Regions from separate parts of the Homo sapiens genome. Here all the other regions are linked to region 1. Evidence: fine-mapped expression QTL. A gene starts in region 1. Each other region holds a variant in brackets. All regions are shown on one strand. Distances are from middle to middle. Region 1 holds the start of ATXN1 (ataxin 1). Region 2 overlaps ATXN1 (ataxin 1). Region 3 overlaps ATXN1 (ataxin 1).

What was found. PIP is the estimated chance that this variant, and not a neighbour inherited with it, causes the effect.
Region 2: its variant is fine-mapped to the expression of ATXN1 in monocytes after Pam3CSK4 (Quach 2016, PIP 0.92).
Region 3: its variant is fine-mapped to the expression of ATXN1 in whole blood (TOPMed, PIP above 0.99).

The regions. Positions count from the first base shown.
Region 1 is chr6:16,757,628-16,765,813 of GRCh38, reverse strand. ATXN1 (ataxin 1) reads left to right here and starts at 4,354. Exons shown (of 8, transcript NM_001128164.2): 1 at 4,354-4,516. ATXN1-AS1 (ATXN1 antisense RNA 1) reads right to left here and starts at 4,676. Exons shown (of 3, transcript NR_136240.1): 1 at 4,648-4,676; 2 at 3,535-3,695; 3 at 1-3,462. RefSeq lists an enhancer at 2,701-3,900 and silencers at 3,901-4,220, 4,038-4,253, 4,261-4,420, 4,897-5,026, 5,097-5,576 and 1 more.
Region 2 is chr6:16,675,849-16,684,034 of GRCh38, reverse strand. All of the region lies in intron 2 of ATXN1 (ataxin 1), which reads left to right. Among named protein-coding and RNA genes, the nearest start is that of ATXN1-AS1, 81 kb to the left of the region's middle. The variant TCCAC/C (reference allele first, on the strand shown) is at 4,659.
Region 3 is chr6:16,702,992-16,711,177 of GRCh38, reverse strand. All of the region lies in intron 2 of ATXN1 (ataxin 1), which reads left to right. Among named protein-coding and RNA genes, the nearest start is that of ATXN1-AS1, 54 kb to the left of the region's middle. The variant T/C (reference allele first, on the strand shown) is at 4,494.

The sequences.
Region 1 (8,186 bases):
GAAGTCTGATTGCTATGATTCTGGCAGGTGCTGGATCGCATCAACTATGAATCTTTGTGTTTCAACGTGGTAAAAATTAACAGTTTTCCAAAGGTAAGATCTGTTCTGCTCTGATCTCCTTGCACACTAAGATGTCTTACTCAATTTTATATTCTCAAGTCTTAGTTATTGTAGATGCAGAGTAAGTGACTGCTTGTAAATAAATAATAAATATATAAACATATTATCTAAGAATAACTTTGAAAAACCTTTAAAACTGTAAAAAATGCTCTGGATCTTTAGTCTGTATAATTTCCCTCATTTATGAATACCTCAAAGCACTACTGAAACAATTAAATGACTCAATGTTATGAAAGCACGATGTGGTTCCATAACTTTTTGGATACTTGGCTTTTACCAAGTATGTTATCTGCTTCAAGGGAGTTTTTGAGGATGCAATATGGAAGAGTAGTGAAAAGTATGAAATACTACGTAGGTATAACTGAAACCTAAATCCTCACCACTGCAAGCATTAAGGAGAAACCCCTAAAATTATTCTGAGTGTAAACACAGCAAAAGGCGCATGGACCTTAACCAACATGTATGACACCAAATGAAATTAAGTTACCTGATGTAGGGTCCAGTGAACTGACTCTGTTTTTAGATAAACAGGAGCTACTATTAGGGTTGCCTGATTCTGTGTTATCTTTGTTTTTGAGTAAAGCTAAGGCATCTTAGGGTTGCCTGATTCTGTGTTGTGTTATCTTTGTTTTTGAGCAAAGCTAAGGCATCTTTTTCACTTTTGAGGTCCACTTTCTTTTAAGAATTCAAGCCTAAAACTCTAAAGAAGTTTATCTTTATTTTATTCAACTTTCAATCTGTTCAGTTACATAGTTGTTATGACCTGGTAAGCCTATCTGTGTTTGCTCAGTTGATTTGCTTCATTTTGAACTACATAACAGGCTACTTCCAATGAAAACATATACTACAATGTAAAATCTGTCATGATTTGGAGAGACCTGTGCACTGGTTTTATTAAGCACTCTTGTGCTCCCTCTGCTGCCATGAAGAAAATGTTCATGTTCAAGACCCCAGTACATTCCTCAGCAGAGCATTCTTTTTTGGCAATAATGATGCAGATGTGTGCACTTACAGTGCAGTAGTATTTATCCAAAGCATATAACATAATAATTTTTCATTGAAAAGCACAAATTAATAAGGGCTGTACTTACTAAAAAGGAGCAAAAAAGAAATAAATAGAGGAATTAACTTCTGCACTTGTGCCCAAATTTATTTAGGTTGATCCCTGTGGTATAGACCAGTGTTCTTCACATGATAATGTGTTTAGAAATCACCCAGGGGCCTGGTTCAAAGGCAGATTCTGATTTGGTATGTCTGGGGTAGAACCCTTGACTCTGAATGTCTAAAAAGCTCCCAAGTGCTGCTGTGGCGACTTTGAAAACTACACTTTAAGTAAGGGTGTAATATGTAATTATATAATATATACTTGCTGGCCCATTTAACACCTTCAAGAGTAGATACCACCAAAACAGTAAAATAGATATGTGATTACAATTATTTTTCATGGTATTTAAGCAATCTATGACACAGGATACGAGTCAAGCTCATCAGGCCTTATTTATCGATTTCCTGTAATTTCAAAGGTTGACTTATGCTTTTACAAACATAACACCAGCCTTATGAGTAGGACTATAGTACTATATATTTGTCTACTAGCTTCTTGGAAGCTCTGCCCTTTTTCATTGAGTTTTTATTTGCACGAGAAAGTCTTGTTTCTAAAGAATCAGTGCCTGTTATTTGTGATTGTACACTTAATATTTTGCCATCTGAAAACAAAATATTTCAGTACTAAAGGTAATGAGACAGTTTCATGAGTATGGTGTTTATGTTGGATCTTGCAGGAAGAAATAGTTACAGATTTTGGTGGCAGTTTATGGCTTTAAACTTAATGGCTAAGAAAGTAAATGACACATTTCTTATTAATTGTTTTTACCATTTGGGTAATATACATATTTAGCTTCCTTGAGAGAACATTTAAATTAATTGACTAACTGTAATCTGAATTATGTGTTTTAATTTAAGGTTGTTAAAATCACGTAAATTAACTGCTTGTGCCAACGTAAAATTACAATATTAGCTTTTTTTTAACTGAAAATTATCTAAATGTAAGATGTCTAAAAATAGAGTGGAGGTGGATTGGACAGTTTGCAGATTATGAGTTGGAATAAAAACATCGCAGTTAAGCCAAAAACATGGCAACCAATATTTTCTGTTATAAAAATATTTGAGATGAATTTAGTTTTTATGAAAGCTGTCTGAAACTGAAATGAATAGCAGAAGCTTTCTGTTTATTCACAGTCCAGTAATAATAATACCTGCAGCACAAAGCATACGTCTTTTCTATATAAAGCCAACAAGCTTCTGCTCCTTTCTGAAGTCGTCTTTGCCAAGCAGGGTGTTGGGGGCGGGGGTGAGGATAGGGGTGAGGGGACATTTTACCCGGTTATGCTCTTACGTACTAACCTTCACCTTGACAAAGCTTGTCAACGAAAACAAAACCAGTCAGAGCCTTTTCAGGAAACTGATGTTAACTGTCCACTAGAGGCTGTAATGAGACCAACAATGTCACTTTAGACCAACCCGAGGTTTAAACCGTAACAATAATCGATTTTTAAATGGAAAAAAAAAAGTTGTAGAAATGAGTAAGAGTGAACACTAGTAGTTATACTTAAATAGCCACATATATGTGCATGGTATTTCAAAAATGTGAGAAAAAAATATTTCCGGGGCTCTGCACCTTCCTCGCTCGTATGTTTATTTTTATTTATGAAGCACGTAGGCTCTTGCAGGCCAGAGTTGTGTAAAAACTGACACTTTTTTTTTGGTCATCCTGTGCCCTGCCTCAGTTGGTGACTAACCGTTAGGTCATAAGTAAACTCAGCCAAAAGATCTCTCAAATACAGCTTACAGTCAAGATTGGTGGCTTTCAGAAAGAAACTTACGCGAAAGGATCATGTTTCCAGACACTTAGTTCTAAGCACCTGAAGAAGGTCAAATGTCGCCCGACACCTACCGGCCTTCCAGAATCATCTGCAACAAGAACGCCGCACTGAGCGCCCTTAGTCTGGAGGCGCCTCCTAGTCCTCCAGGTGCCACACCTGTTGGCAAGGTGCACCCATCCGAAGAAGATTCCTTCGCGTGGAGGTCACACCTGGCGGCGAGACAGGCGGAGGGGCGGGGTGGTGGGAGTCGGAGACCGCACTGAAACCCTGAGTCCAGATTTAAGTTCCTCGTCGATTCTCGAGAACTGCCATTTGATGCTCCGGTTGCTTTCTCTGTCTCCTACACTGGTTACCTCATTTCCGATTAAATTAATGATCCGAAATTAGCTGCGAGAGGAGTGCGCGGGTCTCCTTTCCAGGCTAGAGCGGAGTAGTTCCATATCAAAGCCGATTTCCGGACCTGCGTGCGAAGAGAGAAAGAGGGCAGGGTCGGGCGGTCGCCAGCGTTCGCCGGCAGGAAAGGTGAGGGTACCTGTGCAGTCGGGGGACCCCTTGAAACTTTCCGGAGTTGCACGCAGAGGCAATCCCCGCGGCCCCCAGGCCTGGGTTCCGGAACGCCGAAGCGACGCCGGTTTGTGGCTTAACGTGCAGCTGATGATCAGAGTGAGCCCTCTCAGATGCTGCTCCGAGCGCCTGGGACCAAGGACACGTCGGGATTAGAATGGGCCGACCTCCCCTCCCCGCTGGGGTGTTGCATCGGCTCCCAGCTGAAGCCTGACAGCCCTTGGGGGAGTCCCCCAGGTTGCCTGAGTAGCGCCCCGTTGTCGTTCAGTCCCCTCCAACTAGGTGCAGGGACCCAGGGAGGCGCGCGAGGACCGACCCGTCACCGCTCAAATTACCTCATCGCCCAGCTCCCCGCCCCCTTCCCAAACCTGGAAGGAACCTTGCCCTCCGGTCCGCGTCTCCCCTCCCCCGCACCCCATCCCGAGCCACTCTTTGGGAAAGGTGCCCGCCTCCCCGGGCGGCGCGCAGCGAAGGGTTAAGGGCGCGGGCCGGCCGCCGCGCGGTGCGCTCGCCGTGCTCTGTGCGGCTCGCCGGGCCGCCCGCCAGAGGGTGCCCCCCACCCCCATGAAGTCGGATCCTTGAGCTGCGGCGGCGGCAGCCAACTGCTCCATATTTGGCTTCTATTACACATTTACATACTGGAGCGAGCGAGCGAGCGAGCGCGAGAGAGCGCGAGGGAGGGAGGGAGGGCGGGCGGGCGGAGGGAGGAGGGAGGGGAGGGGAGCGGGAGGAGGGGGAGGAGGAGGAGGAGGAGGAGGAGGAGAGAGCAGAGTATACCGCAGACATCATTTCTACTACAGTGGCGGAGCCGTACAGGACCTGTTTCACTGCAGGGGGATCCAAAACAAGCCCCGTGGAGCAGCAGCCAGAGCAACAGCAGCCGCAAGACATTGTTTCTCTCCCTCTGCCCCCCCTTCCCCACGCAACCCCAGATCCATTTACACTTTACAGTAAGTGACTATTTTTTTTTCCTCCTCCGATTCTTTCCCCCCTCCCCCATTCCCTTCTCCCCTTATTTAGATTAAAATCCCTCCTCCCCCGATCTCCCGAGAGGGGCAAAAGCAACAACCAGCAAACAAACCCAAAACCCCAATCGGCTGCACGGAAAACAGCTGGAAGAGGAGCGAAGGAAATCGACGCGTCGTGTTCTGTGTGTGTGCGTGTGTGTGTGTGTGTGTGTGTATGTGTGTACATACAACCGTCCCCGGCTCCAGGCTCCCGGGCCGACACCCCCACTCTGGGCGCAGGGGCGGCCGGCGGGGGGGCTGTCAGGGGCTGGGTGGGCGCCCGCCGGGCTAGGGGGCGCGCCCGGGCGGGGGGCGCGGGCGGGGAGAGCGGCGGCGGCGCCCCGCTCCCCCGGCTGCTGGTCCGGTCGCAAGTGCGGAGAGCCATGTCCTCCTCCCTCCGGGTGGCGCAGGGGGGAGGCGGCGGCTGGGGTTGGGGGGTGGTCCCTTTCCCGGCCGCCCTCTTCCCATTCCTCCTCCCCGGAGAGGGCGGTGAGAGAGAGGGGGTCTCACGGAGGGCTGGACTTCTCCGCGGGTGGTCGCCCGGCCTCGGCGCCCTGGGGCGGGGGTCTCCCCTCGGAGGGCCGGCCTCGCCGGGTGTGCGGCTGCGGGCGGGGAAGGGACTGCTCCTGCAGCCGGGACGGGACTTTGCGCGCGGCCGGGTGCCGGGCGGGGGGCGCAGAGGGGTGGCCTCGGGGACCGCGCGGGGGTAGCGGGTGTGCGGGTGCCTGGAGCGCGGCTGGAGTGGCGGTGACGGCCCTGGCCGCCGCCGCCACCGCCGCCCTGTTGGTGCGGCCGCTTCCTGATCATGTGCAGCGGCAGCCGCCGCCCGGAGCCGGGAGCCCGCGAGCGCCCCAGTCCGGGCCGGCGCCCCCGCCAGCACCCGCGGCAGGAGACGAGGAGCCGCGGCAGGCGCTGCCCTGAGCCGGGAGTGAACGGCTGCGCGGCTGCTGGGAGGGTGAATGAAGCCAGGAGGAGGGGAAGGAGGAGGAGGCGGCGGCCGCCGCGGAGGAGGCGCTGCGGGGATTGGGATGCGCCCTGGAGCCCCACTGCTCGTTCACTCTGGGCCGGGCCGGAGACTCTGCCACTCCCGGGGGCGCCGCCGCCTCCTCCTACGTGGTTCCAGTGCTGCGCGCAGGCCGGTCCCGCAGGGGGCAGGGAAGGGGGCCGGACGGGCGGAGCGAGAGGTGAGGCGGTGTCGGAGCGCGGCGTGAGTGTGAGTGAGTGTGTGAGTGACTGTGTGTGTGTATTTGTGCGCGCGCGCGCCGGGCGGGGGGCGAGGGCCGTCGCGACGCGGAGGGGGCCCTTCCTTGGCTACTTGGCTGACTCTGCAGCGCCCCGACCCCTCTTCAGCCCCCCGCCTTCAGGCTGCCTTCTTAAACTCCGTGGCTTGTGCTTTCATTTTGTTTCAGACCACGTAGGGGGCTGACTGAAAGGGATGAAACAATTCAGGTTTTCTAGGGAGATTGAGCAAGAACCTTAGTGGGGGTGGAAGTAGGGTGGTGATCGAGACTCTGCCAGAAAACAAAACAAAACAAAAAAAAATCCGTTTCTAAGGACGGCGGGGATTCGGTTCGAGCCCGTGGCTGCTCTGTTTTGTTTTGCTTTCTTGGTATATAATCCTACAGATAAAAGGGTAATATAAATATTTGAGAAGAGGGAAATTGCTGAAGAGTAGTAAGGGCAAAAAAAAAAAAAAAAAAAAAAAAAAAACAGTCGGAAGAAGCTGGTTATATAATGCGCGATGTGGCTAACAAGAAAGGCAAGCTATTTTTATTTTGTTTACCGTATGCTGTGCAGTAGGGACTCCTCCAAACTGGTTCTGTCCCCGAAGAGATTCTTAGCTTCCCTGCGAGATCCACAGGATACAATTAGCAAAATTAGAAGACCCTATTACACCCACAGAATAAAAACTAATGCCTTACAGTGGCTTTCTCCCTGCACATCCTGTCGTGCATGCACGGGAATGTGTGTATGCAAATAAGTTCTCCTTTGGCAATCTAGTAGTCACATCTCAATGACATTTGTGTTTTATAATGCAGGCTGTTTTTAATATTTAAACATCATTGTTATATATTGCACACAGCAGTGGGTAGTTACTTGGTTATTTTTAGGCACAGCTAGTTACTTTTTCAACAGTGTTAGCTGAGACATTTCTGTTTGGGTTTTTTAGGAGGCTGCAGTTCCTAGAAGCCCCCCTTAAGCCCACCCTTCGGTTTATTTGATGGGTAAAGGTAGTTTGATACTTGAGCTTTTTTTGGAGTGAAGCTTATGTCTGAGGAAACCACCAGAGAGAAGAGAAAATCCTGCACAGGAACTCTTGGAAAGGGATTGCACCATAACGGCTAGCGCTGTGGCATTTAATCTCCTCTGATTGCCCTCTCACTGTGCATGCATCAGTCAATATTTTAGCAGCTCCGCAAATAAATGGACTTGAATGCCATCTTCTACATAAAGCAGAGGTTGAAGGGCTCCCCTGAACCTCCTGGCTGCCTGTCAGTGGTGTAGGTTTTCGGTGCACTTACTCCAGTCCTGATCACTCATGTAATTAGATCAGGCTGCCATGGCAACAGACAGTGTTCCTCGTCCATTCAGGTGGGTTTGTCTTGTGCCTGAACTACTCCAAGTGTTTTATGCACAGCATTTATGCTGCCCAAGCCAGACGAGAGACTCCACTATTTCAATTGCATCTTCTTTCAGTCATTTGGATGGGAGACACTGAATGAGGCTTCTAGCTACTCAACTTTTATAAAGGAGACCAACAAGCTGTTCTTCCTAGGTGCAGTATGTAAATGCATCTCCCCAGACAGTGAAAGGAGCCTGACAATCCTGCTGGTGTTTATTGTGAACAGATCAACAAGTATTTGGTACTTGTTAGAAACCTTTCAGAGCTCACTAAAGCAACATTTCTTTTGCAGTCTGGTGCCTTTGGCCTTGCAGTCAGTCACTTAACCCTTTCAAGTGTGAAGAGCGTTCATCATTTGGAACCTCCATTGCCCATAGCGATGGCTGGATTTCTAAAGGGTTTACTCAGGGGAATAACTTATTCGGAAAATATATTCCCATTGTCACATTTTAAAACTTGACAGCCATCATAACAAAAACTGGTACTGACAGTAGGCAGACATTCTGAATGTATTCATTCTTAATTTGGATCTATTGGCTGTGATTTGAATGATCTTTGGTAGTAAGTTAAAAGGATTTTTTTTTCCTTAGCTAAGCGAGAAACGATAGAGGCCTATAGCTAGAGGACTGATAGTGCATGGTGCTTTTGGACAATAAACATGTACTTTATTTTAGGATGTAATTTAGTGAGCAGTTAGAAAGCAGTATTCTAGTCTTTGCATTAGGGCACCACTGATAAAGCTGGCTAAGCAAAGAGAAATAATATTATGGCAAAAAGGAAAAAAGGAAAAGTTGCTTTAGTTGCTGAAGCTCTGTGCTGCTCAGGCAATCCAACTAAGTGGGGCAGGGGGCGGGCGGGGGGGAGTATTTTCATAACCCTGGTATTTGAAAGAAAAGATAATTGAGAATTATGTCTTGATTTAGTTGTGACTGCCAGTCAGTTTACAATTTTATGGCCAACAAAGCTAAACTGGTAAATTTTTTCCCCCAG
Region 2 (8,186 bases), 82 kb after region 1:
TCTGCCTCTGAGTCACAGACAAATGATGAAAAAAAGAACAATTTTCTGTCAGCATGCCAGACCAAGGGAGGGGCCAGGAGAAGAACCGTGAACCATGAACTGTGCCACTGCTGGAGGCACTGACAGCTCCTTGGCACCAGATGTGTGACCTCAACCCCTGCAGCTTGGGCACAGATAATATCTCAGGGCAGGGGATGAGGAATAGAGGAAGAAGGGAAAGTTGCAGGGATCCTGGAGTGTTAATACCCATGGTGGCGGCAGAGCAATTTGCCAGGAAGAAAACTCTCTGGTTAACCCTCCGGCACTAGTTGCCAAGCATGTTTGTACTAGAATGGAGTTCAAAGTTACAAACAGAGCACTGTCTGTTTTTAAGGACTCATATGAAAGGTTTGCTTGTCCTAAGCCTGAATCCAAGAGTCTGTCTGTCATAAACACTTTCAGGTAGCCCAAAAATCCCTTCAATGTGATCTCCAGAATAGGGGAAGACAAAGGACTCAGGTCTTCAGCTGTCTGATGAGGAGTGAGAAATTTTTCTAATGAACATCTCTGGCTTATGGATATTAAGGAGAGTTCAGTGTCAAAAGTTTCTGCAGCGTAGTTAACAGAGGTGGAAAGTTGAAATAACCTTAAAGGCACTGAAGCTGAGAAACTGCCCTCTTTATCCTAACAGCCACAGTTAGTTTTGGAACACTGTCCATGGAGAAGCTCAGGGCTGTCAATTTAGAAAGCAGCTGTGTGCTGGCCCATTGGGCACCATCTTTCTCTCATAGGTTGTTCTAGTCCAAGGTGAAGAAAGCTACATTTTGCTCTAAGCTAGACTGACATATGGACTTCTAGATTTGAACCCTAAACACAGGAGGAAGTGATTGATTGTATTACAAAAAGAATCTTCTTTGGTAAATAACTATTTTTTTTTTTAATGGCCAGATGGGAGAAAGCAAAAGATGCCTTTTCGTGGTGTTTTGGAAACCTAGATCTCATCAACTCCCTGGTTGGTTTTGGCGGTCAAGGCTTTTTATGCCAGAGCAACTGTGAGCCAGGTTTCTGAGGTTCTTCCTGACCCATGTTGGTAGCCTCTTAAAAATAACTGTCATTCCAAGTTCAGCTAAAATATATAACTCAACAAATAAATACATATAAAGCATATGAATAGAAGCGGGAAAGTGAGGATTAACAGACTGGAGAGTAAGAGTCTTGCCATGTAAAATACTATAAAACACTCTTAGGAAGTCTCTTGCTTATGTTATTACTTGTACAGTAAATGTGGAGACCTGGATCTCTTCCTCATGGTCCCTTATTTCTTGTTTTCCTGCTGGGAGGTTTCAAGTAGCTGATCCCTTGCACATGTACTTTAAAACTTCAATTATATTTGTCACTGGCTTATCATGGGCAATGTATGTGAATGTGACTAAGGGTCCTGATAAATTAAATGCCACTTTTACATGTTCCTTTCTTTTTCTTCTATTAGTGTTCTTTAGGACTTTGAATGGGAAATCCTCAAACATGTAAGTCTATGTGGCTTCAGAAAACCCCAGAGAGGCCAGGCGCGGTGGCTCACACCTGTAATCCCAGCACTTTGGGAGGCCGAGGCGGACAGATCACCTGAGGTCAGGAGTTCGAGACAAGCCTGGCCATCATGGTGAAACTGCATCTTTACTAAAAATACAAAAATTAGCTGGGTGTGGTGGTGCACACCTGTAATCCCAGCTACTTGGGAGGCTGAGGCACGAGAATCACTTGAACCTGGGAGGTGGAGGTTGCAGTGAGCTGAGATTGCATCACTGCACTCCAGCCTGGGTGACAGAGTGAGACTCCATCTCAAAAAAAAAAAGTTCTCCCCAGTGGCCTCTACTGAATTATCCAAGTGCTTGGGTAGGGGGTGATGCTGAGGCCTGGGAATCTTTAATAAGAAAGAAGAAGGGAAATTCCTTATGTTGGACCCAACATTGAGTGTGTTCAGATACAGATGTTGGCAGGTATGGGGGCATTCGGAAGGAGAACAGCGGCTAACCAAGCTAACTGAGACTGAGTTCAAGATTCGCTTCTGGTTCAGGGGGACTTTCGTTTTCAGGCTCTAATACATTCAGAAGAGCAAATATTGGTACTTTAATCATGCATCTTTTCCCCCTCAAGTTCTGTATCTGCCACGTGTATATTTTATTTGGCATTTAAATGCACAGTTCTTATAATTGCTGATAAATAGTCTCCATTGCACATTTTGCTGGCACTGTGGCCTCACTGTAAATGCTCTCTGTATGTTCTTGGGAAGTTGCATAATGGCAGTTACTCTAGTTTACTGTGCAATATGCTCAGTGACTAATGGCCTAATCATGACTTGAAAAATATATAAACAGTTCAACAGAAGCAGTTGATTCACTGAGCTCTTTCATCCAGACAAGGGTGAGCTAATGGGAATAAAAAAGACGGAGGTGTGCAGCAGCGTCTTTGATGTATTGAAGTTAGAGCATTCCCACAAATCCCATGCATTATTGCTCATTGATGGCGGATCCTTTTTCATATGCATGAGGCAGGAGTGCCAAATTATCGTCCTAATTGGCTCTGACTTGGTATTCCTTAATGTTCGTGTTACACTTGTTACAACTTTTTTCCTTTCCTCTAAATACTACTGACAGTAACAGCTTTGGAGAGGCAGGCTGTCACGTGGCCCCATGGCGTCACCCTACACTGCAGGCTTAAGTGTGGCTCTGGTCCTGTGCTCTGGTTTCTTGGGATAGAATTACAGCTGAGACTGTGCAGTGCGGACCTGCCTGGTTTACTTCAGGGGCATTGTTGATTGACACAGATTCTTGTTCCCTTGTCCTCAGTGGCACCTTTTCTTCCAAGAGGAACAGAGATAGAGTCTTACAACAGCCATTAAATAGAAGATCCTGGGGTCTACTGGAGCACTGTCCCATTGGTGGGGAGAAATAACAATCATCATCATCATGTCTCCCTTCCTTTGGAATTGATTAGGTAGCTCCTATATTCCACATTCCTCTCACCTGTTGACCACACACAATTTTTGGTCTTGTAGCTTGGCCACTCATTTTAGCTCAATCACTGGTTTAATTTTTTTAATGAAATCACTCAATCGATAGAGGCTAACCTCTCGTAGATGTAATAATTCCAACCATTCTCAAAGAAATAATGAAGGGTGGAATATTATGCTTTCTAAAATAATGGAATTTATTTTTTCTTTATGCCCACAGCTGTTTAGTCCTAAAGAGGGGGAAGAAAGAATCTTTCGATCTTTTGGCATGTTCCATGTCCCGTATTGATGGTCATACTTCAGCTTTTTTCTGGTTGTTTAAGAATTATGTGGCCAATAGGCTGCCTTGTATATAACAGTGAAAAACACCCATTACTTGTATTTGTTTCATTTTAAGGTTTAGGCAGTTGGAGCATAGGACAGTAACTGGTTTCCCTTGTTTTCTGGAACCTGCCCCTTGCTCTCTCTTGGGTGATGCCTCACCCCTGCCCCAGTGTCAGAGCTGCCCTGGGTCCTTCTTCCCTTGAAGGGTCTGATGAATGAACCACACAGCTTGTTAGTATCTCAGTTTGTTAATCCTCCCGGAGGAATGTATGTTTCAAAAAAGAAGCTGAAAAGTATAATGGATGAGAATTTGCTTTGGAACTCAGCACACTGTAGATTAGAGAAGGAAAAGAAAGAAAAGGAAGGAACAGAAGGACATGTTTGGGGGGTAGGGGGCCTTTCTGGGGCTTCTGAAAGCAAATGTTGTGATAATTAGTTACAGTGTCCCAAAGATGCCTGGGTCTACCCCTGACCCTCTACACAGGCCAATTCTGCTCCCACCAGAAAAAAACAAGAGTACAGAGCAAAGAGGCAGGGCAGCAGCCTCTGATACCTATTTGAACTTTACACATTCTGATAGAATTTATTATCTGTATTGAATATGGGAGACTGTGGGTAAAAGACTTCAAGACAGTGAAAAACTAGGAAAGAAAAATAAAGGTGTATTGGGCCTTGGCAAATTTTTGACACTTACTTGACTATGTGCTTTAACTTTTTGAAAAGGCAGATAATATAGCAATCACATTAAATATTTATCTTTAAAAGAAATTATTTTAAAAATTACTCTTAATATTACCACATTATGAACTCAATAGGAGATCCTACAGTTCCTTTAACTTTAACAACAGTACATTTGTTAATATTCATTAAAGTTAAAGAAGCTTACTATTACAACAGAATGAAGTAATACTTGCTGGAAAACACCAATATTTTACTTATCTTTATCTAATCCCCCCGTTTAACTGTAGTGATACAATACTTAATTTTAAAAGAGGAATGGTTTGAATGTACAGACTTTTACATGTGTTCTTCCATTGAGTTCTTTCTTGTAGTCTAACCCAATAGTTATCACACTTCAGTGTACATGAAAAGTGCAGTAAAGGATTGTGCAGTATACATAAAATCCTGTGTGGAGTGTCTTGTGGGAAAGCCAAAGGATTTTCAAAGTTAATTTTGACTATATATGACTTTTGCTTAACTTTTGAACTTAACCGCCCACATAAAAACTCACTCCACTATATTTCCCTTCTCTTTGCCTCCCTACTTCTGTCCCCCCTTTCTCCCTTTTTTCCTTCCTCCCTTGTATTCTTCCATCCATCCATCCATCCATCCATCCATCCATCCA[TCCAC/C]CCACCCACCTATCCATCTATCTATCCTCCCATCCACCTATCCACCCACCCATATATCCATCCATCCATCCATCCATCCATCCATCCATCCATCCACCCACTAACTCATCCATCCATCCATCCACCCACCCATCCATCCATCTATTCATCCTTCCACCCATCCGTCCACCCACCCACCCATCCATTCATCTATCCTTCCATCCATCTATTCATCCATCCACCCATCCATTCATCCATCTATCTATTTGTCCATCCATCCACCCTCCCACCTATCCATCCATCTATTCATCCATCCATCCATCTTTTCTTCCATCACTCCTTTCTTTTTTTTTTTTTGAGATGGAGTTTCACTCTTGTTGCCCAGGCTGGGGTGCAGTGGCGTGATCTCGGCTTACCGCAACCTCTGTCTCTCGAGTTCAAGCGATTCTACTGCCTCAGCCTCCCAAGTAGCTGGGATTATAGGCATGCTCCACCACAGCCAGCTAATTTTGTATGTTTTTGTAGAGATGGGGTTTCACCATGTTGGTCAGGCTGGTCTCGAACTCCTGACCTCAGGTGATCCACCCGCCTCGGCCTCCCAAAGTGCTGGGATTACAGGCGTGAGCCACCGCACCCAGCCCCTTCACTCCTTTCTTTTTCTCTTTCCCTGCCTTCCTTTTGATAAATTAACTTAAACATTTTTTTTGGTGAAATTAATATGGTGATGTCTACTTATATTTAAATCAGAAAATTATTAGTATGCTGAATATTCCAATCTCTTAGGAATGATAAAAATATTCTATAAAGGTCAATCTTAATTCCACATCCTATGTTCCTACTCAGCTTTCTGTCTCTGATTTCTCATTTTTAGCTGGGAACATCCCAGCCAAAAGACAGCCAGGTTCTCTGTGAGCATAGCATATCAAACTAACTGTAAGAAAATAACATTTTGGCTTAAAAGCCATCTTCTAATATAAGATAGAATAAAAATGATAATGATTGGTATACTATGTGGCATTGTTAGTAAGAATTTGAAGTAAGATTTACCTAAATCGCTGAAAATATTGAATAGTTGGCTGAGACTTTAGAATTGGTACAAACATGTACATTTTCTCAAAATCAAAAGAATTAAAATAGATATCCAAGAAGTCAGATTATGAAAAAATAAGATAGTCAACGGAAATCCTAAAAGTAACTTAAACATTGGCATTGGACATATTTCATTTGTATTTCTGCCATAGAAGAGTTAAGTTAATGTGCATTTTTGCCATGCAATGGCAAAATGAAGAGACTTTTTTTTCCCTTCTTTTTGCTCTTGGTAAAATTAAGTGGCAAAGAAAAGATAGCTCTGAGGTTATTGCTAGAATTTTGTGCTAAAAACATTTTGGCTAGAGCAGCAAGTTTTTAGGCAAACAGCCCCTGATAAAAGTTGCAAGAAAAAAATCTCATTCGAGTGCACCAAACACTTTTCAGATGACCATTTAATTTTTTTAAGTTGCATAAACAATTTCAAGTGCACTGTAAATATAGAAAATAGGGTATGATAGTTGACAGAAACAGAATGAATTAAGAGCAGTAATAGAAAATTGTAAACAATTATATCTGAATTTCATCAGTTGTCTTGCTTACATTCACAATTAGTCATCCCGTGAAAGACATAGGTGAACATTTAGCTGCTTAAAAAGGAATTAGCTGCTTGAAAGGACAAATGTTCATGTTAAATTTCATGAAGACTAACCTTCAGCAGACAACGGCACAAATGTGTCAGCTTTTTCTGGTGTGAATGAAGCAAGATACAGGCAAAACAGATGAGATAAATAGGACTTGGAAAAAAAATTCTACTATACAAGTTTTGTATCCCCATCTTTTTGCTCTTTGTGGAGCACCTACTGGAAACCACTCCTGACCTAATGATGAGGACACAGAGAGAAAATTCAATAAGCAATGGCCTGAAAAATAATTTTTATCTAAGTATTAGATAAACGCAGTAGCATATTTGACTTGTAAAAATAACATGGCTAGGCTTTGTATGCCTCCCTGTCCTCTTACCTACGTGGGATTTTCAAATAGCACTGATTCTGGGGAGGGGAATCAAAAAATAGAAGACTCCCCTCTCCCAGAGCACACGTAATTAATGCCTGTGTTGCAGCTGGGAGCTCTCTGCCAGCAGAGTTCTTTGCTCGTCATCTCTCAGCGCTCACCCACATTCCCCTTGATTCACACCGTATTGTTTGTTTACATGTTTGTCTCCCTGACTCAGGTTGGAAATCTTTAAGGACAAGGACAACCTCTTGTTCCTTTTTACATTTCCCATGGTGCTTTGCTCGCAGTGGCCACTACAGACATGATTCATTCATTGTTTTAAAAAAAGTGTTAACTAGTTAAGTGAAAATAAAATGAAACAGCAAAATGAGACAAACGCCTAGATCTGAAAGGCTACAAAATACAGCAGAGGGTTCAGTGGACATAAGAGGAAAGGAACACAATGATATCCCCAATCTTGTGATGGAATAGAAAAAAAAAAAGTGATTGGTGTTGATGTAACACTTTTCTTGGCCAGTTGAACATTCCAGAGTAGAGGTCAGTTTTGTAGTTAAATCTGGTAGGAAGATGTTTCCAACCAGAAGGAATCATACTAAAATTATTTTATCACAACAAGCAGTCCATAACCGAAACTTTAATTTGTGAGTTGGGAATCAGGATAGGAAACCCAATTTTATATTCTTTTTATAGGAAGAAGAATCCATTCCACCACTCAGACTGCTTTCCTCTTTCATAATCGTGGCATACTCTGCCATTGTTTGTTTATTTTCCCCACAACTAGATGGAGAGTGCAAGGACCATATTTTACTCATGTGTATCCTCAGGGCCTAGCACAAAGTAGGCACTCAGTAATGAAGAAGTAAGATGTTTCAATGTCCCTAACATTTAAAAGGATGTATGAAACTAGTGCTAATACCAGAAAGAGTTGGTTTTCATAGGCTGTTAATTGTGGGTTTTGAAATAATGTACTACTTTGTACATTGATTTTATACAACTGTGTTATATACTTCAGTAACTTTCAAGGTAAAAAGTTAGAGGTTATTAAATCTGGCAGGGTCTTAAAACCTGAGTCTCAGTCCATGTAAGAGCATTCTTTTGCTCTTCTTGACTAGCCATGTAAAAGGGTGAATGTAAGTTAGTGAATTATCTTTTAGAAATCTTCAGTTGTATATATATTTTTTTCATCGAATTGCAAACTCACTCACACTTACCAATGTAATACTACCCTGTTGATGAGCATTAGTAGCCTTATTTGGGTAGCCAGATTAGAGACACAGGCTTCATGGTGTTACCTGCCTTGATGTTTTCATTCATAATGCAGCATTTGGGAATGCAGCATTTTTCTATATTGGAGACATGTATGATGATGTGTATGTTCCTTCCCCATAACCCTGTCCGCTTCTCCTTTGGCAGTGTCTTGCATCACAATTTTATTTTATTTTTATTTATTTATTTATTTTTTGAGAAAGAGTCTCACTCCGTCACCCAGGCTGGAGTGCAGT
Region 3 (8,186 bases), 55 kb after region 1:
TTATGAAATTGCCATCACACCTTTGTCAAAAATCATTTGGTTTTATATGTGTTTTAAGACTCTCTGTTCCACTGATCTGCAGTCTGTACTTAGGTCAATACTATATTGTCTTGATTAAAATACTGTCATGGGCTGGGCTCTATGGCTCTTGCCTGTAATCCCAGCACCTTGGGAGGCTGAGGTGGGAGGATCGCTTGGGCCCAGGAGTTTGAGGCTACAGTGACTGCAGCATTGCATTCCATCCTGGGCAGCAGAGTGAGACCGTGTCTCTATTAAAAATAATAATAATAGGCTGGGTGTGGTGGCTCATGCCTGTAATCCCAGTACTTTGGGAGGCCGAGGCAGAAAGATTGCTTGAGCTCAGGAGTTTGAGACCAGCCTGGGCAGCATAGCAAAACCCCATCTCTACTAAAAATACAAAAATCAGCTGGGTGAGGTGGCATGTGCCTGTAGTCCCATCTACTGGTGAGGCTGAGGTGGGAGGATCGCTTGAGCCCAGGAGGTTGAGGCTACAGTGAGCTGTGATCATGCCACTGCACTCCGGCCTGGGTGACTGAGCTGGACCCTGTCTCAAAAATAATAACAATAAAATTCAAAAATAATGAATAAATGTTAAAATTAAAAACTAAATAGCTTTATGGTAAATCTTGAAAACAGATAGCGTGAGTCCTCTCTGTCTTGTTTTTTCCCTCAAGATTATTTTGGTGGTGTTCTATCTCCTTCAGAGTTCCATATAAATCCCCCTACCCCCCAAAAAAGCCTGTTAGAAGTTAGTTCAGATTGCACTGAATCATAAGAGAGAAATTTAAGGAAAATTCACCTTAACAATATTGAAACTTCAATTCAAAAACACGGTATATCTTTCTCTGCCTTTTTAATGAATTTCTGCCAGGAATGTTTCCCTGTTTTTCCTGCAGAGACATTGCATATCTTTGGTAAAATTTAATTGTACTTTATGCTTTTCGATATAATACATGTAATTTTTAAATCATCCTTTTCAAATTATTTATATAACCAGGACTTTTTTTCTGATCGTACAGGGAAAGTATTAACTATTTCACCACTATTTCATCATGATGTTAGCTGTAGGTTTTTCATTTGCCTTTTATTGGATTGACGAAGTTTCCTTCTATTCTCTTTTTTCTAAGAATTTGTGTTTGTTTGTTTTTATCGGGAATGTGTGTTGAATTTTGTGCAGTTCATTTTTGCCTCTGTTGAGATGTCATATGGTTTTCCGCTTTATGTGGTGAATTATATTGATTGGTTTTAAGTGTTAAACCAAACTTGAGTTCCTGGGATAAGAACCAGTTATAATTATGTGTTATTTTGACCTATTGCTGGATATTTTGGCTAACATTTTATTAAGTATTTTTGCGACTATGTTTATTAAGAACATTGGTCTGTAATTTTGTTTCTTTATATAATATTTACTAGGGTTTAGTGTTAGTGTTAGTAATACTGATTATATAAAATGTATTCGTGGAGTCCTCCTGTTTTTTACTATTTTCTGAAAGAATTTATGTAAGATTTTCTTTCCTCTTAAAATTGATGAAATTCCACAGTGAAATCTTTGGGCTTGGAGTTCTCTTTGTGTGAAGGTTCTAAGTTTTTAAAATTTAATTTAAAAACATTATAAAGTAAAATATTCCCTTTTTTGATGTACAATTCTATGCATTTTAACATGTGTAGAGTTGCATAACTACCACCACAATCAGGATACAGAACAGTTGTATCATCATTGTGCCAAGGATTTTGATACTGAATTCAATTTCTTAACATATAGCCAACTCTTCAGATTTTCTGTTTATTCTTGCTATTGGTAAGTTATGCTTTCTATTTTTCAAGAAGTTTTTTATTTCATCCAAGTTGTGAGATTTATTGACATAAAGTTTTTAGTAATACTTTCTTCTTATCTATTTAGTGTCTGTAGGATTTATAGTGATATCCCCTTTTCCATTTTTAATGATGTTTTCATTTACTTATTTTTGTGATTAGTTTTGCTAGATGTTAATTAATTTTATTAAGCTCTTCAAAGAATGAACTACTGTTTGCTTTCTGTTCTTCTCATTATTTCCTTCTTTTTCCCTACTTTGGATTTAATTTTCCTTCCTCCTTCCTTTCTCTTTTTCTTTTCTTTTCTTTTTTTTTTTTTGAGACAGAGTTTCGCTCTTTCACCCAGGCTGGAGTTCAGTGGCACAATCTTGGCTCACTGCAAACTCTGTTCCCTGGGTTCAAGTGATTCTCCTGCCTCAGCCTCCCAAGTAGCTGGGATTACAGGCATGCACCACCGTGCCCAGCTAATTTTTGTATTTTTAGTAGAGACAGGGTTTCGCCACGTTGGCCAGGCTGGTCTTGAACTCCTGACCTCAGGTGTTCCACCTGCCTTGGCCTCCCAAAGTGCTAGGATTATAGGCATGAGACACCGTGCCTGGCTTGCTTTCCTTTCTCTATATCACTGATTTGAACGTCTTCTTTTTTTTTCTGTTCCTAGGTACACACACTTTTAAGATTGATGTATCTTCCTAATAAGTACACCCTTTAATTATTATGAAATGACCCTTTAACTCTGGCAATTCTCCTTGTCTAGAAATCTACTGATCTGAATATGGCTACAAGAGCTGCAGGCTGTTCAGACTTCAGCCGAGGTCTTGCAATGAGCCCTTATGTTTTAATTGCATTGTACAAATTTTGATATATACTTTTATTGTCACTTAACTCAGTATTTTGTATTTCCATTTTATTTCCTCTGGGAATTGTCTAGTAGTAAACATTTTAATTCACAGACGTGGGGAATTTTTAAGCTTCCCTTTTTTCCTTAATTGCTAATTACATTTTTATTTATTTATTTCTCTTCATAGTTGTTGCTTTAAATATCTCTGTGCCATTTTGTTAGATGCATGTATGTTGACGATTATAAAATCATCTTTATTGGTTGTTCCTTTTGCCAGCCTAGGATGTCCCTCACCATCATTTATAATGCTTTTAACCTTACATTCCATTTTGTCTGATATTCAGAGTGCTATCCTGGTTTTTGTTTTTAGTTTTGCTTATATTTTCTTTTTTAAAAATCTTTTAGTTTTAATGTCATTGTATATGTTCATTTTACACGCATCATTCTTCCCCCCCACCACATATTGTGCATAGCTCTGTACTTGTCTCTGTTATTTGATTAGTGACTTTATACCCAGTTATCCTTACTGTAATCATTTTTATTAAGATTTTTAGCTTCATTTAATGTTTTCTACTTGGCTTTACTTTTTGTTTTGTTTTGTTTTGCTTTCTTCCTTTGGATAGATCGGATTTTTTTTCCCGAACACATTTTATTTTATTCTTGTAGCATTTATACCTTTATTTAAACATAAACTTAGGTATAAACATAGTTTCCTTTATGTCTAAAAATTATCAGTAATTTTTAAGTTCCCCAAATGACTCCCCCACTCATAACCATTGGACCTCTTCTCTCTCAGTCTGCTATTTTCCCCAGTGTTCCCTCTACTGAGACTTAACCACCTTCTTTCCTGCAAGAATTCCCCATCACATGGAAAATAACTCTCAGCTGCATCAACCTCTAGCCTGTGCAACTTCCCCACCTTGCTTGGAACCGGAAATGACTTCTACTTTTAGAAAGTTCATTCTCTGGGCAGAGTAGAAGATAGAATTCATTGGGGTGTTATTGAGACAGAGAGACCATCTAGGTACTCTTGAAGAAGTCCAGGAGACTTTAGGAGGGTCCAGGTTAGAGTAGTGGCAGTAGAGTGGGAGGACTGGTGGAACAACCGGGAGGATTTGGTGTTGTATTTGAGGAGTTTGAGAAAAAGAGAAGTTGATGGTGCCAAGTATGAGTGGCAAATATCAGATTTCTTTTATTTTTTCCTACCCTATTCTCTTCCCTCCCAAATTCCATTTGCATGACTTCTTACCAAGGTTTGGTTCTGCCATTTTAAATGAAATAAGACATGTAAAACACATGGTATATGTCCTAGTATAGAAATAGTAATTAAAAAAAATAGATGCTAGCTTCCACATTTCTGTCTCAAGTGCTGACTGTATGAATGGGGAGGAGGAGCCTACAGATTCCTGAGGAGGAACAACTTCTTTTTCTTGGTGGCAGGGTGGTTAGAAATGTAATTATTTCATTTCTTCATCTTTTGAATTTGAGCTGCCAATGAGACATTTAGGTGACAGAAAATTGTATATCTAAGTCTAGGATTGAAAAGAGATGATAGAGATTCAATAGCTGTTAGGAAAACTGTAGAAGCTCGTCTAGCGGGAGGTGATAAAGTGAAGAGAAGAGAAATTTGAAAAGCATTTATGGGATGGATTGGAAGAAGGAGGATCCATCAGAGAAAGTTAGGAGGCCTGAATTCTTGTCCCAGTCTGGTTTATTTAGCCCTGAATAAAGCACTTAACCCTCTCAGGGTCCTCTTTCTTTCTTCCTTTTTTTTTTTTTTTTTGAGATGGAGTCTTGCTCTGTCGCCCAGGCTGGAGCGCAA[T/C]GGTGCAATCTCGGCTCCCTGCAACTTCCGCCTCTGGGTTCAAGCAATTCTCCTGCCTCAGTCTCCTGAGTAGCTAGGATTACAAGTGTGCACTACCACGCACGGACCATTTTTTTGTGTTTTTAGTAGAGACAGGGTTTCACCTTGTTGGTCAGGATGGTCTTGAACTCCTGACCTCGTGATCCACTTGCCTCGGCCTCCCAAAGTGCTGGGATTACAGGCATAAGCCACTGTGCCCGGCCCTCTCTTCCTTTAAGATCTCTTTCTTTCTCTCTGCCTCTCGTTCTCTTTCTCCATTCTTCATTAATTCAACAAAGATTTCTTGCATACGTATTGGGCGCCAAATTCTGCTCTAGGTATTGAGGCTAAAGCATAAGATAGGATGTGGTCTTTGACCTCTAGTACTGGGAGCAGGCAACAGATTAATCATTGCTCTCTGTTAAGCATTATGGTAGGGTATGTTTCATACCTGAGTCAGGTTGACTGGAGGAAAGGGTGCTGAGAAGGCCTGCAGAGCACGTCCTTCAGTCCAAGCTTTTCAGAATGAGGAGTTGTTCAGACAAGCTTGGGCAAAGAAAGACAAAAGAAGTGCAAAATAGTATTATATGGATGGGCTGAAGGAGCAATAAGCAGTTTGGTAGGTCCATAGTGAGGCAGGCCTGACACCGCTAGAGGGGCTCAGGGTCTCGATCAGGAAGGGCCCTTGTGAGCCAAGCAGAGATCTTGGATTTTATCTTGGATGCAATGTAGACCCATTCAAGGACTGTAGGGATGTGAAAAGTCAGGTGTGTGTTTCAGTGATTTCATTCTGTTAGTGCTATGCATTTGGCATGATAAGGGACCAGGTGGTGGGCAAGGAGACCAGAGAGGAAGCAGTTGTAGAAATCCAGGTGACAGAGGAATGTTGAAAATTCCAGAACCACAGAGCACCTGCTTCATGCTAATCACAGGTCTGTGTGCTGCGGCTTCTGCAGGGACCAGGACAGACAGGCCCCTTGTTCTCATGGAGTTTGGAGTGGCAATGGAAGTGACAGAATGGAAAGAATGAGCAGATTGGAGAGATGTTAATAAGCAAGGATTTAGAGGACTTGATGAGCAATTAGATATTGGAAGTGAATGAGAGGGGGGTAGTGTCTGGTTTGAGGAAGTGAATGGGCAAATGACACCACTCACTGTGATTGGGGAACCAAGAGAATAACTGAGTGGGACCTTCAGGGAAAGGTGCCCAGCCTGCACTTGTATAAATAGGTCTGGATCTCAGGAACGGCCTCCGTGACTTACTGGATCAGGGAAAGAATTGGACTATGTGGATGTTTACGTTACTTGATTTTATTCTGCTCCATCATTCAGTTTGGGTCTGTGACTGTTGAGTCACCTCACAGAGGACGAGGTATCCTTATATCTCTTTCCCTAAAACCTAGTGTGGGGTGAGCAAAACAGTAGGGCTATTGTTTGAAGTAGGTCTGGAATTCTGTATCATTAATTTCTTTGCTCACCCTCTGATCCCTGCCTTCACTTTAGCCCTCCCCCAAGTCCCAGCATAGGCTCACTACCTGGATTTTGGCTTCTGTGTGAACTGCTGTGGGCAATCGTGTCATATTCCTGTCACAGAGACTCTAGGATGCTCCAGCGGGTAGGGATTTTAGGATCACTGGGTCCAATCTCTGCAATTACAGATGAGAGAGGTGAGGCCTGAGGAGGCAAGGGGGCCTGCAGAGCACTGGTGTAGGGCTACAGTGTGGTCGCTTGATTCACTGGTCTGTTTTGCACTGTGCCCCCTCCCCCTCGCTGAGTGCTTAGAGAGCAGGGCAGGAAAAGTTCTGCACATTGGTGCAGACGTTTGGAAATGACTAAGCCTGTGTGTGTAACTTTGAGACTTCTCGTGAAGGTTGTCAAGAAGCATTTGATCACTTCAGCTCTGAGGTAGGGAGACAGTCTCCTTGGGCATCACACTTGCATTCCAGCAGCCCCCTTGTTTGGGGTGCTCTCCAAAGGCTCCCCGTAAGGAATTGTTTCACCCCGGGTGTAGAATCACATTGCACTGCGGCTTCAAAGGAAAAGTAAAAAAGTGCAGAAATTACCGACCGGAGTGTGGGAAGTACTTCTTGTTGGTAAGATTTTCAAGTGCTGGGGAAGAGATGTGTTGAAAGGACATTTACTTTCATCAGCTTAGAGCATCTGTTTTTTATACTTTAAAAAGAAGCAACACCTCAAATTATGGCAGTCCCTGGGCAAGTAAGCACTTGAGATTTTGATCTGTACAGATTCTTAGAGGGAGCGCCTCGCAGGAGCTGTTAGTAGTGATTTGTAGCACTTAACTGATTCTGTAGACCGACAGTCAATCTTGGGGGGAAAGGGGGTTCAGAGGCAATGATAGTTAAGGAACTGCTCCGTAAAACAGCAAATAAGCCATTGCTCTTGCACCCGAGTAGAAATGGAAACTGTACTTAGCAGGCTCTGGAGACCAAATTAGATAGGAAATGAAAATAAATTCCATGTTTTTTATTTTTAACTCAGTGCGCACCTCCAAAACATTCGTACAGTGTGGGCTCCATGACGTGTTTTGCCTGCTCTCTTATACAGATTTAAGTTTTTAAATGGTAGTTAGAGACACTCAACATAAAAGCTGCTGCTTTAACCGTTGTTGTTATTGCTTTGTTTTTTTGAGATGGAATCTCGCTCTTGTTGCCTGCACTGGAGTGCAGTGGTGTGATCTCAGCTCACTGCAACCTCCACCCCCCAGGTTCAAGCAATTCTCCTGGCTCAGGCTCCCGGGTAGCTGGGATTACAGGCGTGCGCCATCACACCCAGCTAGTTTTGTATTTTTAGTAGAGACGGGGTTTCACTATGTTGGCCAGATTGGTCTCGAACTCCTGACCTCAGGTGATCCACCCGCCTCGGCCTCCCAAAGTGCCGGGATTACAGTCGTGAGCCACTGTGCCCAACCCACTTTAACCATTTTTAAATATGCATTTCAGTGGCATTAAGTACATTCACCATAGATGTACTATTTATTATAGGCACAGTTTCCTAAACTGAGTAAAGAAAGGAAACATTTACCCCCACAGCCCAGTATAGTCATTGTTAAAATTAAGATGTTAGTCTCCAAGTCTTTTGTTTACATGATTTTGTTCAAACCTAGTTGCAATACTTTTCATAGAGGTTATAAAGAGAAATATAGAGTTATAAAGGAATTTTTTTAAAATTATACTTTAAGTTTTAGGGTAGATGTGCACAACTTGCAGGTTTGTTACATATGTATACATGTGCCATGTTGTTGTACTGCACCCATTAAATCGTCATTTACATTAGGTATATCTCCTAATGCTATCCCTCCCCCTTCCCCCCACCCCACAACAGGCCCTGGGGTGTGGTGTTCCCCTTCCTGTGCCCAAGTGTTCTCATTGTTCAATTCCCACCTATGAGTGAGAACATGCGGTGTTTGGTTTTTTGTCCTTGCGATAGTTTGCTGAGAATGATGGTTTCCAGCTTCATCCATGTCCCTACAAAGGACATGAACTCATCATTTTTTATGGCTGCATAGTATTCCCTGGTGTGTATGTGCCACATTTTCTTAATGCAGTTTATCATTGTTGGACATTTGGGTTGGTTCCAAGTCTTTGCTATTGTGAATAGTGCCGCAATAAACATACGTGTGCATGTGTCTTTATAGCAGCATGATTTATACTCCTT